3 linked regions of the Homo sapiens genome follow. The protein of the gene in region 1 purifies or fractionates together with the protein of each later gene. This does not show direct contact. Each region holds a gene or a part of one and is shown on either strand. Other genes may lie near its edges.

Evidence for each region. Proteins that work in one complex are often made in the same cells at the same time.
Region 2: the proteins of SMPD1 (region 1) and ALG11 purify together in Homo sapiens (affinity purification with mass spectrometry; 2 studies listed by BioGRID and IntAct, with this or other methods). This does not show direct contact.
Region 3: the proteins of SMPD1 (region 1) and CLGN purify together in Homo sapiens (co-immunoprecipitation; 2 studies listed by BioGRID and IntAct, with this or other methods). This does not show direct contact.

What each region holds. Positions count from the first base shown.
Region 1 is NC_000011.10:6,386,423-6,393,473, forward strand, and holds the start of SMPD1 (sphingomyelin phosphodiesterase isoform 1 precursor), read left to right. Parts: upstream 1-4,051; 5' UTR 4,052-4,176; coding exon 4,177-4,494; intron 4,495-4,961; coding exon 4,962-5,734; coding exon of another isoform or gene 5,735-5,774; intron 5,775-6,793; coding exon 6,794-6,965; intron 6,966-7,051. UniProt on the Homo sapiens protein: Converts sphingomyelin to ceramide. Exists as two enzymatic forms that arise from alternative trafficking of a single protein precursor, one that is targeted to the endolysosomal compartment, whereas the other is released extracellularly.
Region 2 is NC_000013.11:52,029,398-52,034,133, reverse strand, and holds the end of ALG11 (GDP-Man:Man(3)GlcNAc(2)-PP-Dol alpha-1,2-mannosyltransferase), read right to left. Parts: coding exon of another isoform or gene 3,029-4,736; 3' UTR 534-3,028; downstream 1-533. Other genes in the region: UTP14C (U3 small nucleolar RNA-associated protein 14 homolog C), read right to left, coding at 3,029-4,736. UniProt on the Homo sapiens protein: GDP-Man:Man(3)GlcNAc(2)-PP-Dol alpha-1,2-mannosyltransferase that operates in the biosynthetic pathway of dolichol-linked oligosaccharides, the glycan precursors employed in protein asparagine (N)-glycosylation.
Region 3 is NC_000004.12:140,389,616-140,396,648, forward strand, and holds part of CLGN (calmegin precursor), read right to left. Parts: intron 6,591-7,033; coding exon 6,477-6,590; intron 6,355-6,476; coding exon 6,204-6,354; intron 4,427-6,203; coding exon 4,211-4,426; intron 3,097-4,210; coding exon 2,971-3,096; intron 2,764-2,970; coding exon 2,604-2,763; intron 1,114-2,603; coding exon 1,013-1,113; intron 1-1,012. UniProt on the Homo sapiens protein: Functions during spermatogenesis as a chaperone for a range of client proteins that are important for sperm adhesion onto the egg zona pellucida and for subsequent penetration of the zona pellucida.

The DNA of each region.
Region 1 (7,051 bases):
GCACAGTGGCTCACACCTGTAATCCCAGCACTTTGGGAGGCTAAGGCAGGCGGATCACGAGGTCAAGAGATGGAGACCATCCTGGCCAACATCGTGAAGCCCCATCTCTATTAAAAATATGAAAATTAGCTGGGTGTGGTGGCAGATGCCTGTAGTCCCAGCTGCTCGGGGGGCTGGGGTAGGAGAATTGCTTGAACCCGGGAGGCGGAGGTTGCAGTGAGCCGAGATTACACTGTTGCACTCCAGCCTGGGCGACAGAGTGAGACGCCATTTTTAAAAAAAAAAAAAAGATTGTGGAGACCAAGGTTCTTTGAAGTCTCTTAGTGGCTGCCCTTAGAGACAACAGTCGACAAATGTTTCCTATTCAGACCTTTAAAAGGTGCTAGACTCTCAGTTAATCTCTTCAGGATTGGAGGGCCCAGAAGAAAAAGATCTGTGTTATTAGAGATTCTTTACAGATGTAAATTTTCCCCCATAAGGTACGACTTTGCAGGGCCATTTCAAAATATGGCAAAGTGGCCGGGTGCGGTGGCTTACTCCTGTAATCCCAGTACTTTGGGAGGCCAAGGCAGGCGGATCACCTGAGGTCAGAAGTTCGAGACCAGCCTGGCCAGCATGGCAAAACCCCATCTTTATTAACAATACAAAAATTAGCTGGGCATGGTGGTGGTGGGTGCCTGTAATCCCAGCTACTCGGGAGGCTGAGGCAGGAGAATCCCTTGAATCTGGGTGGGGGAGGTTGCAGTAAGCCAAGATCACCCCATTGCACTCCAGCCCGGGCAATAAGAGTGAAACTCTGTCCCGCCCCCCACCCCAAACCAAAAAACATATATATATATATATATATATATATATATATATATATATATATGGCAAAGAAACATGTTTTGGGGTAAAATATTTTGACTTTCTTCTTTATCACGTAATTTTATGCCAGAGTATGACTGAAAAGGCAGTCACAATATATAGTGTTAAATAAAACCCAACTGATAAGAATTTATGGTTTGTAGGGCATGACTCCCCAGACCCTTTCGATAGGAATTTGAGCAAGATAAGAAAAAATCAGAGCTTAGTCCTCATTAGGAACTGCCTCTTCTTCTCCTTTAAAAACCCACTTGTGACTTCTGCTAATTGGGAGCATATACTCAGGGCAACTTGAATCTTCGCTTCACAGTCTTCAAACTTGGCCCAAATAAACTCTCTACTTATATCAAGTTTGCCTTAGATTTTTCCCTTTAGGTTGACATTTCCCAGAAGTTTTAATCAGATGAAGAAAGCTCCCAGAAGGTTTATTTCTGCATCTATTGAATCTGAAATGTCTTCGGCTTAAAATAATTGTTATACCAACTCTGGTGTTCTGAATGGGTCCCCACACAGCAAAGAATAGAGCCAGAATGTTGCATTTGTGAAAGGAAAATAAAAACTCAGGACTCCAGTTGACTATGCCAAAAGGAAAAAAAATAAACTGAAAACTGAGTCATGCAAGAAGCTGCCTTTCCTTTTGTTCCTAAGCAGATAGCTACAGACAAAAGGTTAAATATTTACAAAATTAGCCGGGTGTGGTGGCACATGCCTGTAATCCCAGCTACTCAGTAGGCTGAGGCAGGAGAATCACTTGAACCCGGGAGGCAGAGGTTGTGGTGAGCCGAGATTGCGCCATTGCACTCCAGCCTGGTCAACAACAGCGAAAACTCTGTCTCAAAAAAAAAAAAACAAAAAAAACACAAAAGGTTAAATATCTCCACAGGCATATTTACTTTATCTTATGTAAAGTGCCAGACGAACACATAATTGAGTATCTCCCTACCTGCTCCTTTTCTCTTGCGACATGTGGATTACCATACCCTTCTTCTTTCCCTCCAGCTCACTTTTCCCCTTTAAATATTGAAGCCCTCAAAATCATCTTTGGAGAAAGCCACAGACCACAGACTGTTTCTGCGATTCCGTGTTTATTTCTTCCAGCCATGTCCTTAACCTTGGCAAAATAAACCTCTAAATTGATTGAGACCTGTCTCAGACATGTTTTGCTTGACACATCCAAATTCCAGTTCCAGCACTTACTAGCTAGCTGTGGGATCTTGAGCCACTTACTTAATCCTACTTTCCTTCTCCGTAAAATGGGGATAATTATAATACCGACTTCCAAATTTGTTGTGAGGATTAACGTAAGGCAGAGTCCTCAGAAAAGTACCTACAGAGGGTTATTCGGGCCAAGGGCCAAGGTTGAGGACTGCGACCCAGGACACACTTGCAAGTTGTCTTGGGGGAGCACTCTGGACAACAAAAGAGAGGCTCATATTTTCAAAGAAAAAAAGATGAATTAGGAGAGGAAATGAATACAAAAGTTGTTCATCAGGAATTCTCATTGTTTACAGAAATAACACTGGTTATACATTGTTTAGCGCTTGGCTATACATTGTTGAACTATAAGGTGTATGGCATTTAATGGCTACTTGGCATAGCAAGTGGTTTCAAGAGATAATTACTTAGCTCAAAGAAGAGTGAGAGTGACTGTTGCTACATTTTAAATGCCTGTCTGGGCCTGATAATTTAAAGGGGCTCATCTTCCTTAGATAAAAAGGTTTTGTTTTGTTTTGTTTTTCATAGTACATAATCTTAAAAATGCATGCTAATTATTACTGTGAGTACTCTATCTGAGATGATGTCCCCAGAACTGGGGGGAAAAAACACTTGTAAAAAATTATCAAAGGAAAGAACTGACAGGACTTGATAGCTCTGAGGATTCCTCAGAAGCACTCGTCAAACAGCTTAGGGTTTAATTGCTATTCTGCCACTTAACTTCTTTGTGCCTCATCCTATCTGTAAAGGAGGGTAATAATAGTATTTGCAGGGACCAAGGGAAACTTTCCCTTCGCCCTCTGAAATTCTGCTGAAAAATCAACCCACAAAAAACAGATTAATTGAAGAAAAGGCATAGAAATTGTATTAATGTGTCCACGGGGAACCACAGAGTGACTACCCACTTCCCAGACGAGTTCAGAAGCTTAGGTGTCATTCAGGCAAAGGGGGTTGTGGGAGTGAGGGGAAGAGGAATTCTGCTGAGGGAGAAGGAATGGATCAGGGAACAGATTAACTAGCACATTATCATGTGAAGGGGTCTGTTCAGGTGTGATTATATTCTTGGTTTTGTAGGGAGGGGAAGAAAAAAACCGTTGTTCCTTTTGATGGGTCTGGACGCTAGGTAACGGCTTTGGGAGAGAGGGCGCGGGAGTAGGAAGGCCAGACACACCTTAAGGCTTAACTTAGTAAGTCAAACCACCATATTTTGGGTATGGATTTCTGAGCCCCAATATAATAGGTACTTCTTAGGGTTGTTGTGAGAATTGAAGATTATTAATTATAAAGTGCCTGGGTTGGTGCTTGGCACATCATAAACAACTCCATAAATGCTCGCTTTTACTGTCGTGGATACACGGAGGTGGGAGACCCAATTGGGTTCCCGCCCATGTTATTGGCCCCCACGGCTATATGGTCTTTACGGCTTCCTAGTCTCTTCACCATCTCTAAGGTTTGTTTCCTCATCTGAATCACAGGTGAGTGATTCTCAGGGTGACTCAAGAGGGCTGGTGCCAGTGGCAGAGCATGGGGAATCGAGGGAAGGCGCCTTCCTGTCAGAGGCAACACACCCAGTGGGAGGATCCTGCCCGCCCTGCTCTCTCCTACCTCCCCTTCCCGGGCTAAACGCTGGGGTCGGTCTGGCAGCTATTCCGGGAATCTGAGCGCGGATTCTGACAAAGGAGACGTCTTCCACCGACCACATCACATGGAGCTCCAAAGCACGAGCACGGCCTCCCGCGGCTGTGACCTCAAGGCGGAGCCCCTGGTGACCTCAGGGAGAGTCCCCACCCCCGCAGCCCGTGCGCCCGGGGCAGGGCGGGGGCAGGGAGAGGGGGCGGAATCGGGGCGGTCCCGGGAGCGCCCCGCCCCCTCCGCCTCCGCAGCGTTGACAGCCGCCCGCCACCGAGAGATCAGCTGTCAGAGATCAGAGGAAGAGGAAGGGGCGGAGCTGCTTTGCGGCCGGCCGCGGAGCAGTCAGCCGACTACAGAGAAGGGTAATCGGGTGTCCCCGGCGCCGCCCGGGGCCCTGAGGGCTGGCTAGGGTCCAGGCCGGGGGGGACGGGACAGACGAACCAGCCCCGTGTAGGAAGCGCGACAATGCCCCGCTACGGAGCGTCACTCCGCCAGAGCTGCCCCAGGTCCGGCCGGGAGCAGGGACAAGACGGGACCGCCGGAGCCCCCGGACTCCTTTGGATGGGCCTGGTGCTGGCGCTGGCGCTGGCGCTGGCGCTGGCGCTGGCTCTGTCTGACTCTCGGGTTCTCTGGGCTCCGGCAGAGGCTCACCCTCTTTCTCCCCAAGGCCATCCTGCCAGGTTACATCGCATAGTGCCCCGGCTCCGAGATGTCTTTGGGTGGGGGAACCTCACCTGCCCAATCTGCAAAGGTCTATTCACCGCCATCAACCTCGGGCTGAAGGTGAGCACTGAAGGGGCTGCAGTGGAGGAGGCCGAAAGGAGTGCTGGGGCTGGGGGCTGGGGCTGATGCTGGTGCGCTGGGCTCAGAATGCATCCCTGATGGAGAGGGTGGCATCTACAATCCATCACTGAGTTTGCTCCCCTTTGGGGACACCCATGGCTACATGCCACCATCACCCCATTGTGACCTTTGTGAAGTAAGAAAATAATGCAGACAGTGCCTGAGGAAGTCAGCTTGCCAAGCAAAGGCCTCATGCCACAGGCCGCTGAGCTAAAGAAGAAGCGATGGCCTGGTGCTGCCTGAGTTACAGGGCAATATCTGGAAGGCAAAGGTGTGCACTGAGCTTGGTGCACTGAGTCCTGCCCAGCCCCAGTTTGGAAATGGAGGCCCAAGGGGTGGTGGCCAGGGGTTGGCCTGGTTCCTCTGCTCTGCCTCTGATTTCTCACCATGCGCTCCTCCCACTGCAGAAGGAACCCAATGTGGCTCGCGTGGGCTCCGTGGCCATCAAGCTGTGCAATCTGCTGAAGATAGCACCACCTGCCGTGTGCCAATCCATTGTCCACCTCTTTGAGGATGACATGGTGGAGGTGTGGAGACGCTCAGTGCTGAGCCCATCTGAGGCCTGTGGCCTGCTCCTGGGCTCCACCTGTGGGCACTGGGACATTTTCTCATCTTGGAACATCTCTTTGCCTACTGTGCCGAAGCCGCCCCCCAAACCCCCTAGCCCCCCAGCCCCAGGTGCCCCTGTCAGCCGCATCCTCTTCCTCACTGACCTGCACTGGGATCATGACTACCTGGAGGGCACGGACCCTGACTGTGCAGACCCACTGTGCTGCCGCCGGGGTTCTGGCCTGCCGCCCGCATCCCGGCCAGGTGCCGGATACTGGGGCGAATACAGCAAGTGTGACCTGCCCCTGAGGACCCTGGAGAGCCTGTTGAGTGGGCTGGGCCCAGCCGGCCCTTTTGATATGGTGTACTGGACAGGAGACATCCCCGCACATGATGTCTGGCACCAGACTCGTCAGGACCAACTGCGGGCCCTGACCACCGTCACAGCACTTGTGAGGAAGTTCCTGGGGCCAGTGCCAGTGTACCCTGCTGTGGGTAACCATGAAAGCACACCTGTCAATAGCTTCCCTCCCCCCTTCATTGAGGGCAACCACTCCTCCCGCTGGCTCTATGAAGCGATGGCCAAGGCTTGGGAGCCCTGGCTGCCTGCCGAAGCCCTGCGCACCCTCAGGTACTTATCGTCCGTGGAAACCCAGGAAGGGAAAAGAAAGGTGAATGAAAGTGAAGGGAGAAGGGAACCTGGGGCATTGTCTCTGATTGCTCTAGCATGAGTCCTTAGTGCTCTTCATTTGGCTCCCCTAATCTGACTCCTCCTTCCCTTTCTACTGTTTTGCCGCACCAGGCTTTTTTTTTTTTTTTTTTTTTAGTTTAGTTTTTGTAGAGACAAGATCTTGCTATGTTGCCCAGGCTGGTCTCAAACACCTAACCTCAAGCAATCCTCCCGCCTCGGCCTCCCAAAATGCTGGGACCACAGGCATCAGCTACTGCTCCTGGCCCTCCCTTTTTTTTTTTTTTTTTTTTTTTTTTTTTGAGATGGAATCTTGCTCTGTTGCCCAGGCTGGAGTGCAGTGGCACCATCTCAGCTCACTACAGCCTCCACCTCCTGGGTTCAAGCAATTCTGCCTCAGCCTCCCAAGTACCTGGGACTACAGGTGCACGCCACCACACCCAGCTAATTTTTGTATTTTTAGTAGAGATGGGGTTTCACCATGTTGGCCAAGATGGTCTTGATCTCCTGACCTCATGATCTGCCCACCTCGGCCTCCCAAAGTGCTGGGATTACAGGCATGAACCACTGCACCCAGCTTTCCAGCCCTCCCTTTCTACTCTTATCTCCAGCCACCCTCCTTCAAAGGTCTGGCAGCATAACCTCTCTATGCCCCAGCTGTGTCTTTGCTCATGTTGGCCCTCTGGAAATGATTTCCCCCTTTTTTTTAAGTGCTCCAGTTTTTCCCACCTTATCCATCCCATGTCATCTTCCCTCTGTGTGGTCCTTGCTTCCCATTCTAGCTAACTCTTATCCCTCCCCCATACTCCTGGAGCCCTCTGCCCTCAGAGTCTTTTGTGTCACACAGACCCAATAATTAGAACTGTTTGGTCTCTGGCTAGACTGTGAGCTCCTTGCAGGTGGGGAAGATGTCATGTATGCTTTTACCCTCCACCCAAATGCCCAGCACAGGAGGACCAGGATTGGAACAAGTGTTGACCTCTCATGTTTACTTTGTTTCAGAATTGGGGGGTTCTATGCTCTTTCCCCATACCCCGGTCTCCGCCTCATCTCTCTCAATATGAATTTTTGTTCCCGTGAGAACTTCTGGCTCTTGATCAACTCCACGGATCCCGCAGGACAGCTCCAGTGGCTGGTGGGGGAGCTTCAGGCTGCTGAGGATCGAGGAGACAAAGTGAGGGCCAGTAGTGGGAACACGGTGGTGCTGGGGGACAAGCAGGCTCCTGTTGAGCTGGAGCACCTCTGGGCACAGAAGTTTTA
Region 2 (4,736 bases), on another chromosome or scaffold:
TTGATCATTCTGTAAATGGTAGCAATAAGTGTATCAACACTTTGACCTCCTCTGTGTCTAGTAACATTTGCATATAGTACAACTGAGCACATAGCACCAGAATATTGGAACAGATGCTTCTCCAAAGCCAAGGGTTGCCTTACATTTAGAGTGGGAAAAGAGGAAAATGAGTTAGCAGAGGAGCAGCGGGGAGGGGGGTAAATTACAGGACATAATTTGCTTCTAAAAATTTGTGTTTCGTGTTGTAGTTATATAATTAACTTTTCTATTGTACTGATTGACAGATTTGGCACAGACATCCTCTCATTGTGAATATATATGAATATATCAGAGTTTTGGACTCTGGGGTATATTTACATAAACACAAGTATTCTGAAAGCATTGATAACCACACTGGTGTCTCTTAATTTTGTCTATAAGATGACCTTATAAAATCCCTCAAGAATTATTTAAATCAAGTGTACGAAGCTCTGCAGTTTTTTGTTATGTCTGAAATATTCATTAAAAAGTTTATTAAACCTGACAGCCTCTTCTTAATGTTTCACAAGCAAGACAAACTTTTATTTTTGTTTCTTCTTTAATTGGCATATGGAGCTTGGGAATATTAGTAGGAGAACAAGGAGACTATGTGAGGCATATAAAAGGCACCACACTGGAAAGAATCCAAGAGAATGAAAAATCACTTCTTTAAATAATATTTAGACACAGACTTTGTATCTATATTAGATATAAATCATGTCTAAATACAAATCTAAATAATATTTACAAATAATTATTACACAAAACCTATGTAACACACACTTTATAGTACACAACTGTAAATAAGAATACAAATCTCCACTGCTGTGGGTTCAAAACAGCAGGCTTGGACCACTCAAAAATGACATCTGAGAGGAATTAATAGTCATCCTGAAAGTTCTGCAGACAGACGCTAGCGGACAAACCACTTTGACACTTTTCATGCTATCATTCAGAAAAAAATAGAATACATGTAATACCAAATTAGGAACACTGATAATGAACATATATGCAAATTATATCTTCCAATGATATATCTGTGATATATGAAAATAATTTTGAAGAAATAAGCTTAAAATATAATTTACGGAATTCCAGAAAACTTTTTCTTCCTTCACTACATCCTCAGGAATAAGGCAATTGAGTGGATAACAGTTTGAATCTTACTTCAAAGTGTAGCTACAAAGTAAGAAAAAGCACTGGGCCAGGAGTCAGAATATCCAGGTTATAATCTTGATTCTTTCATGAAACAGCTTTGTGACACTGAAGGAATCTACTAAATTCTTTAGATTTAAATTGTTCTTGTCTGTAAAGCTGAAAATAAGAGAGAACTGGGCTAATCTGTAGGGTTCCTTTCACTCCAATTTCTACCAGTCTTTTTCTAAATGGGATCATCTCTAACAAAAAGTTACAATGGTGTGTCAGAACATCCTGTGACTGACCCTCTGTTTGCTGCTTTTTGATCTGATGACAGATGGCTTGGAGATGTATCAACAACATAATTGGGAGTAGATAAGCTGGCCACATTGATGAATGACTGAGAGGAGACTGCAAAGAAATAATATACCGTTTCATTTGCCCCTTAACACAAAGATGAATCAGCCTGTGGATGGGGTCAATTCACTGAACTAGAAAGGATTGATTATATATGCATAAAGTGCAAAAGCTATAGGTCTTTATAGCCATATCTGCTCACACATATATTCACTTTTCCATGCTAGTTATTCAGGATAGAAGGTGCATTAAATTTATACCAATTCCTAGCTACTGGCCTAGTAACTAACAATCTACAGAGTTGTAATGCATTAATAAATATAGGATTATAGAAGACATTTAGTATGTGATGTTACCTTTAAGTAACTCTCATAATTTTCTTTTTCCTTTTTTTCTTTTTTGAGATGGAGTTTTGCTTATTGCCCAGGCTAGAGTGCAGTGGCACAATCTTGGCTCACTGCAACCTCTGCCTTCCAGTTTCAAGCAATTCTCCTGCCTCAGTCTCCCAAGTAGCTGGGATTACAGGTGCCTGCCACCAGGCCCAGCTAATTTTTTTGTATTTTTAGTACAGACAGGGTTTCACCATGTTGTTCAGGCTGGTCTCAACTGCTGACCTCATGATCCACCCATCTCGGCCTCCCAAAGTGCTGGGATTACAGGTGTGAGACACCGCACCCAGCCCTTAACTGTCGTAATTTTCAAAGTAGTTTCATCTACTTTCCATCTCATTCCAACTCTAAAAGGTAGTAAGGACTGGAATTAACAACTCCAGATTACAGATGAAGAATCTGAGACTCAGAAAGATAAAGGAGCAGCTTTAGTGTCAAAAGGTCAGAAGTTTGTAAATGAAGAAGCTGAAGGTAGGCCCAGATGTGCTAACTGCTTGCCCAGCGCTCTTTCAAAATGCCACCTTGCCATCTTACAATGCATTATGCTGGTAATAGATACCCTGTGGATGTATCTGTATATCATATCATCACTGTCAGAAAAACAGCCTGAGGTTCTCTTGAATGACTTAAAGCTGACTTCCAGGCTGAGATGCGGCACTGTTAAGGGACAATGAGAGACCCACACAAATGTGCTGACAGCATAAACAAAAACAATTTTCACCAGTACCTAGTATGGAAAGGATTGCTGGCAGCACCTTGGCCTCTACCACCCTACACACACCTATAAAGCATCAGTCAGTCCCACCTCTTGACTGTATGCTTTGAGAACACGATTAAACAAGTCTGTTTAAAATTTCTTTTTTAAGGAAATCATTAGGTATATTCAAAAGGGTCATCCACTGTATTGTTTAGAATTTAAATGTACTAGAATTTTTCTGTGTTCTAATGTCTGATCAATTCTAAAATGCTAGTCAATTAATGGTCATCCATTTTCTTTTTTTAAAAAATGTGGCTCAACTACATGCAATGTGCTGAGCCAGTTTTGGAATCCACCCTGTAGCAGAGTAAAACTGGACCAAAGGAAGTGGAATCAGGGCCCCTGACTGTCACTTCTCCAGCTACACAACCTACAGTTTTTCTTCTTTATTGTGACGTGTGGTGATTCGTTTTGGATTCCTCTGTATGACAGGCAGGTCTGACCTTGAGGAAGACTGGTAGCCCACATCCTCTGCTTTTATGGGCTTAATGATATGGCCTGGCTTGGTGACGACCTTGGGAGTAGTCAGCTTTTGGAAAGCCCTCTGGGTGTTCCATGTGGATCCTATAGGGGTCTGGATGGTCCTTTCAAATTGCCGATGGTGGGTAAATGGATATGGAAGCACTTGTACCTGATGAGCTGCTGCGTGGATGTTGCGCTTCTCACTGATAATCACATTTGGCAAATTCTTATCTTTTCTTGGAGGACCCTCAGGGGCTTTAATGAGAAACTGGCGTCTTTTCTTGGCACTGGGCTTTAGGCCCACACCACCCCACTCGCCCCAGCCAGGTAGTGTCAGGTCCACGTCCTTTGGCTTACTCGCCTCCACAGCTTCCCTCTTCTCTTTCAAGAAATCTCTGATGACATCATCCCCAGCAAAAGCTTCCTTTATCATCTGCCTTTGGTCTCTCTCCTCTTCATCTTCCAGCTCCTCTATTATTGTGGGAACTGCCAAAGACCTCACGGAAGGAGACTGTGTGGTCAGGAAGTTCTGTAGGTTGATCAGTTGCTCCTTCTCTTTCTTCTCCTTAGGGGCATCAGGCCGATTATTTGGGGTCCTCTCTGACTGCTGTCCTTCTAACACAGGTCTGGGAAGCTCCTTATTTTGAAAACAATCTTCTTTTCCCAGCTCTTCTAGCTCTTCCAGAGTTTGTACTCTCTCTGACCTCTGTAGCAATAGGGGTTCCGCTTCTTCTGGGGCAGGTTCCTCTCTCTGGACCTGGGGAACAGTCCCCTCTGAACTTGCTTTTTGCTTCCTGGACTGATGTTTTTCCTTCAATTTCTGAGATAGTGCCCTCAATTCGGACAGCACCTCCTGGCTGCTAGAATCTTTTGTTTCTTGACTGCTTGCTGGCTCAGCATCCTGGTTGAGCTCAGATCTTTTTCTAAGGGATTGCCTTTCCTCAAATTCTCTCAACAAAATTTCTTCCTCTGCCACTGGTCTTTCTTCTGCCTCACTTGCAGAAACCTCATGAGCTGCAAGCTCTGGCACTTGCTCAGGGTCCTCCTGTGTTGCAGCCTCTTTGGTGTCACTGGTGCAGCTCCTGAACATCCAGGGATTCGGTCCGTCCACATTCATCTGCACTTCATTCGCTACATGAGGGACAAGGAGTTCTTCCACTTCTGTGCCTCCCTCCTCTTCCTCACTCTCAGAGGCTACCTGGAGTTTCTGTGTCAGTTCTTTGTTCTTGGCCAACTGTTCCTGCATAGCTTGGCGAGCCTCCAGGTCATATTTGGCCATAATTGCCTTTGACTTGGCCCATTTCCCACTGTTTTGGTGCTTAAGGCTCATTCTTTCCATCATTCTGGCATTTTCAATTTTTTCCATTTCTTCCAGTGCCACAGTTGGATTAACCTTCTGTAGCTGCTCAAACTCTTTTAAGGCTTTCTTGGCCTTTCCTTTCTTCACGACTTTGTGATACTTTTTACTTTTGATTTTCTTCTCTTTTCGAGCCTTGGCCTCATAGTAGGACTGCAGAGCCCGAGCCCTCTGAAGCTCTGCTCGGTGCATCTTTGCCTCTTCCAGGCTCATGGCTTGGAGAGAGGCCTTTTCCATGGGAGTCAGTAAAGGATCTGTC
Region 3 (7,033 bases), on another chromosome or scaffold:
ATTATTTTAAGAAAGTCACAGCAGAAACAATGATTATTTAAAACTTGGCTCTGGAAGAAATTCTCTTCACCTAGCTCTCCCTAAATATGGATATTCATACTAAATAATGGTCCCAAAGTCCCTATAAAAACTCAGAGGGCAGGAAGACCAGCAAACAGTATGTGTACTGATTAAACATTAGGAAAGACTTAACAATAATTGCAAATTTATTTGGAGGATTTCTTTAAATAGATAAAATACAAAATTCATTTCATCACATGCAAGAGCAGGCAGAACTGTACTTTTATCCTACCTACATAGTTGGAATGTAATATGTTAGGATGGTGACTCTGTGGGGTAAGGCTACCCAGCTCTTTAAGGGCCAGAGAAAACTGGTTTTTGGTTTATGCTGGATTAAAAACAAAAAAGAAAAAAGACAGCTCTGGCTCTAATTATACTCGGGATTTCTCATTCCATAATAACTTACAAAAAAAAAGCATTGTGCAAAGTTCCATTTTATATCAGGACACAAAAAGGGGTAGACTAATAAGGGGGGAGAAAAGTTCACTAAAGATTTGAGAAAAATACCCTATCAGGCAGATAGTACTCAACTACCCAATGAATGAAATATTTTAAAACGTGAGAGTAAAATGTTGAGACAATAAAGATGTTTTACAACAGCTATAAAAATTATAATAATGATAATTATCTTTTAAATATTCAAACAATGTGTTTATTATGCTTTTCAATAGAATTTCAATGAGAAAGTCATAATTTTGGATACATGTATTCTATCTTTATATTTTGTACGCCACAGGCTTGCTCTATACTGTTTTACTAGGCATTGAGACAATATAAATTACAGTATTTTTCTTTCCTTCCTTATGGATATGTTTTAAAAACAATATAGAGGCTCTTATAAAAGCTGAGAGAAATATGGCAAAAATTCTTTCATAAATCATATTGGTGCTTTTATTGAAAAAACTTTTTATGGATAACAACTATACATAGAAACCAGCTTATTTTCTGTTACCTCATCCTCTGACCCAGACTTATTTGATTGATTACTTTCTTCTTGCCCTTCTATGATTTCAATTTCTTCTTCACTCTTTTCCTCAGGTTCACTTTCCTCTTCTAGAATACAGATTTTGTTAAAAGCAAAGACTCAATAAATTAGAATTTTGCTACTGAAAAGTATTAAATACAATAAATGGGATTTATTTAAATTCCAAGATTTATTCCAAGATTTAGAAGCAACTTCTTCCATTCAAAATTTTAAAAATTATAAATACTCATTATATTATCATATTTTATAAATGAATCATATTTGAGTTTGGGGACAAGTTTAAAAAATTCTTAAGCATTCAGTCTGTATGTAATATGAAAACCAAAAAATAATAATCTTTCCTGTGTTCCTGTCTTGGAAAATACTTCCTTTAATTTTTGGTGATCTTTTAATCTTCAATATGTTATTTACTTATGTTTGTTCTCTGTGGACATCATGCATTTTTTCAGTTATTGACCCTCCTTAGGATTCCATTTAGCAGAACCTCCAACTTTTGTCATCATTATTAACCAAAAGATATTAAGCACGTCCTAGGAGCTATATAAAGTAAAAACTCCTACCCTACCAAGAATGGGCTTTGGGGAAAGGGAAGTTGAAAAATCAACTCTACTTCTTCTACGTAGTTCCAATGTGGGACTACGTGTATAGATGAAAGTGGTGAAAGTACCTTTATACAAGCAGGCCCCTCCGATACTTAAATTCCCTCTAAATAAGGCTGATCCAGACATCAATATACTAAGCACTAAGAAGTTACAAAAACAAGGCTGGAAACTTACAACCTGAAACATTTGTTGTTTTAGATACCTATCCTAATACACACATGAACATGTGTATGTATATGTGTGTATATATATATATACTGTCTCTTAAAAAATAGATAGACACATATGTGTTTTTAAGTCAACTGTTTCATTAAGTGAGTTAAACACTGTGCTTCAAGACATTTGGCTTGGGACACTGGGCAAATCAATAGTTTTATTTCTACCTTATGTAAGGAGGTCTCAGCGGACAGCCACCAAAGGGTGACTTCAGTTCTAACATCTTCAAGAGTTTAACATAGGGTGAGAAGGGGATATAGGTTCAGCAATCCTTTCAGAAAATTAATTAAATTATTTCTTCTATATGATAAGCATCTGACTAACAATAGCTGTTGGAAGACTTGGTGTTGATTTTGTTGCTGCAATCATCTGTTTTATATCTATTCCTTTTCTACAGAGGCCATGATATACACCCTCTATCACCCTCCATCTCATCTTCTACACTCCCAGAGCCAAGAAACATCCTTGCAAAAAGCTATGGCCTATGGGATTCATTAACTGCTAGGCTCTCAAGCAACTGAACACTATTTAAATCTCCTTCTTCCTAGAATGCAAAAACTATAAACAGGGTGGCTGCTCAGAGGACTATTATTCCTTCTTGCCACAGTCACATATTCTTGGGAGATTCAGATGTATAAACTTGATAATAAACAAGTATAATAACTAGTTATTTCAAGGCCATATACAGTTTTATGAGCTTTACCCAGAGTCTCCATTATAAATCACTCTCATCATCTTACCTTTTTCAAGCATTTCACCATCATTTTGCTTTTTTTCCTCTTCCAGGTCCATTGGTTTTTCCAGGGCTGCTTTCTCTTCCTTTTCTTCTTGCTCTAGTACTCCTTTTGTTTGTGGTATACATATGTCGGTTTTTTTATACTCTGTATCTTTATGTTTTTTCTGTGGTAGTTAACATAAGTTATTTTTACTAAAGGCAGAGTGCTATTTTGAAAGTTTTTTTGCAATAATTGATAACATACATAATGAACTATCAGTAAAACTTATGAGACATTTAGTTTATTACTTTTAAGAATCGCTTAATTTATAGAACTCTTAAACAACAAGAAATTTGGGTGAAAAAAGTTGAAGGAAATCCATTTTCTTTACCTTTACTTTTCTTGGCCAACAAAATGAAGTAATTAATGCTATTGGCACTCCTGCTGTCACAAGATAAATCAACCAAAGCCATGGGTGCCCTTCAGCAGCTGCCATTAACTGTTTTAATACACCAGGCTATAGACGAGATAAGCATAAAAATGCAATTCAAATTTTACAAACCTTTACTGGGTAACACAAGATACAAAAAAACTTATTTACTCAGGCATTTTACATTAAGGAGTGATGAACTCGTAAGTAAAAGAAGTTTCATTTTCCCACCTTATACTTTGTAAAGTCTAATTTAATTATTAGCATGCATCACTGAGTGAGACTTGATAGCAGAAGGTATGTTATGACAAAAGTGGAAACTTCTAACATACTGGCAAGAAAAATGGTAATTTTCCTTTTTGGTAAATTTCAGAATAGAACTACCTTTTATGGATGTATTACCTGGTTTATTTGAAGTGATCATTCATTCTGTACTCTGATCATTCATTCTGTACTTTTAAAGAACTTACTAAAAATCATACCTCAGAATTGTTTTCTTTTTTATATAAACACATTTCACACATAAGACCCTCAGTAAGGATATTATTTCTCTTATTAAAATAAAATTTAAAAAATCAAATGTTTTAGTTACAAGAGGTTCAAAACAAGAATCCCTCTTCACCTACTCTTTTGATGGTTTTTCGCTAGTGACCCAAGGAACCAAATGTAAGGTAAGAATTTTTCTTTATAGCAACTGAATTTAATGATACATTTTCTAAGATGCATTGTGTTGAAATATTTAGCCCAACCTTTTCTAAACAGTGTTAAGGTTTCGGGAAAAAACTGGAACAGAATTTAATAATGTTAAACTATAAATTCTTTGTACATTCCTCTAAGTAAAAAATAGTTAAATAAACAGTAATATTTAGATTATCATTGTCACTTAGGTCTTGAACTGGCAAGATGACAAAGATATTAAGTAGTCTTCTTCTATGAACAGTAAATAAGCATTAAATCCCATTAGTGATGTTATAATTTAATGAATAAAATGAGGACTTACATATGCATATATAGCTCATAATGAAGTAACATAAAAAGCAAAATATTCTGTCTACATAAACTTATTCAAACACATTTCCTTGGCATTTAGTAGTTACTGCACATTTATTTGCATTTAAAAGAGCCATCTGAATAACCTACAACCAAGACCAAGTATTATTATTCATAGTTATATCACTACTGCTATTGGTCAACACCATACCTTATTAGCATTTGCTATCATTATTTTCCATCTCCAACCATCTGCAGCCCAGTGATCTGCTACTTCCTTTTCCGAACAGATAATAAAATTATCAAAGTAGATATCAGAGGTCATAGACCAAAGCTCTAAACCAAGAGCACTGAAAGAAGTCAGAAGAAATGGATGATCATCTTCGAAATAATCTGGATTAGGAATTTTTCGAGGACTCCAGATTCCCTGGAAGAAAAGTAATTGAAGACATTTTCAAATAAAATAACTTCATTATAAATGCTGCTTAATAAGTAGCTGCTGTTGAATGAAATTCGCAATGCTAACTGGAAAAAAGAGAATTTTAACTGATATTAATTCATTAGTAATATACTGGATATAAAATCTTGTTTCTTTTGCTGTGTACACAATGTTCCCTACGAGTGATACTAACTTTAAATTCTGCAAGAAAAGGAAAAGGGAAAATCCAACATAAACAGAAACGTGAATAAATTTCACAATTTGTCTACTTTGGACAAATTTTTAGATTTAGTAAAGTTATTCATTGCAAAATGTTATTCAAGTTGTCCAAATCAGAAAGATCATTGTATAGCAAAAATGGAGTTACTCCATTTAACATATACCCATGACAGATATCATTAATCAGGTATGGTTGAATCTCGGCACAACTACTCAACCTAAAACTTCCATTAGATCTTAAATGATTAAACTGTCCATTAAATCAAATACATTCAACAATATCATTGCTCACTGACTCACTCCACCATCACATGTATGTATTCTGGGCCAGGCACTATGCCAGATGATGGAGACATACATGGTTCCTGTATTATGGAGTTTAAAGTCAAATAAAAGAGACAGACATCAAACAAAAAAATTTACCAAAAGAAACATTTTGTGTTAAATGCTTTTAATAAAAACTACAGTGAGTAATTAGAATATGAAACTGCATATATATAATGTTAGAACGTATCCATAAATAATTACAAAGATAAAACTAGAGGGTTAAGTGGATAACATAGAAACTTTTAATATAAAAAGCTAGGTACACTCAAAAGATGTCGATTGATATCAGAAAAAAATCAGGGCTGGGTTCGGTGGCTTACTTCTGTAACCTGAGCACTTTGGGAGGCCAAGGTGGGCGGATCACGGTCAGGAGTTCGAGACCAGCCTGACCAACATGTGAAACCCCGTCTCCGCTAAAAATACAAAAGTTAGCCGGGCGTGCTGGGGTGTGCCTGTAATCTCAGCTACGTAGGAGGGTGAATCAGGAGAATCGCCTGAGCCCAGGAGGCAGAGGCTGCAGTGAGCCAAGATCACGCCAGGCCAGGTTTTTTGTTTTTTTGTTTTTTTGTTTTGAGTCTTGCTGTGTCGCCAGGCGGGAGTGCAGTGGCACGATCTCAGCTCACTGCGATCTCCACCTCCAGGGTCCAAGAGATTCCCCTGCCTCAGCCTCCTGAGTAGCTGGGACTACAGGCGTGCGCCACCACATCTGGCTAATTTTTTGTATTTTTAGTGGAGACAGGGTTTCACCATGTTGACCAGGGTGGTCTCCATCTCCTGACCTCGTGATCCGCCCGCCTTGGACTCCCAAAGTGCTGGGATTACAGGCATGAGCCACCGTACCTGGCCAAAAATCAGAATTTTAATAATACTAAATAATAAGTACATTAATTAAGCACAGGCATTAATTACTAAAATGTACAATATGAGTCTATTTGATCAAAATTCACTTCTTATATTTACTTCTAAAATAGAACTTTATTTCAAAGTGAGCATCAACTGATAATTAGGGAAGAATATAGTATGAAGTGATTTATTTCCCCAGAAAATTAAATAATTGATGCTCTACTTTTAAAATATAAATTAGTTGAGGTCTATTTTCTTTGACATCTTAAAATTAAAAATGAAACTTCCAAAAGTTGACATAGGTAATTAGATATTTAAATAGAAAAGATCACAACATTTTTAACTTCACTAAATAATTGGAACAAGCGGTTGTTACCTGATAGTTAGGATTATCGACCAGTGGAGGTCTCCATACTCCTTTGTATTTTGGGTTATCTATCATGGGAGGTTTCCACTCACCACACCCAATCCGACATGCTGGATTAAGAATCTGAGGTGCCTCCCATTCTCCATCCGTGTCTTCATTCCTTAGGATATTAAAACAAAGCAAATACAGTAACCTCAAGTCTCAGATCAGTCATATAAACTAGTAACAAAAATGCATGTAAGAAACATTTGAAATCGACATTTGAAGATGAAGAGTGCTTACCAGTCATCAGGTTTTTCAGCATTAGGATCAGGGATAAATTTTGGTTCATCATCAAGCCAGCCAGCAGGTTTAACAACACTTGAATCTTCTATTTGGGCAGGTTCACTTTCATCCCTGTAAATACAACGTTTTATATTACTAATTATTCAGAAAGTTTAAAAATGCATGTTACAACACTAAGAAGGTACCATAAAATTATTTCCCTCCCTTTTGTTTGTGCCTGTTATTTGTCCTCATCTACTACCCACCTAAATCTTTTGCTAACTTGCCAATTTTTGGTACATATTCCCTGTTGTGCTCTATGCATACATGCACACACGTATACATTCTTTTTTTTAATACGAATGATAGCATTCTATACATAATGTATTAGACCTTGCTTTTGTTACTTAAAAACTCAGTCATTCATCAACAAATATATATTGCATGCTTACTATGTGTCAAGACTGTTCGAGGAGCTCCATTATTATTATTTTTTTCTTGAGGTGGAGTCTTGTTCTTGTTTCCCAGGCTGGAGTGCAATAGTGCGACCTCAGCTCACTGCAACCTCTGCCTTC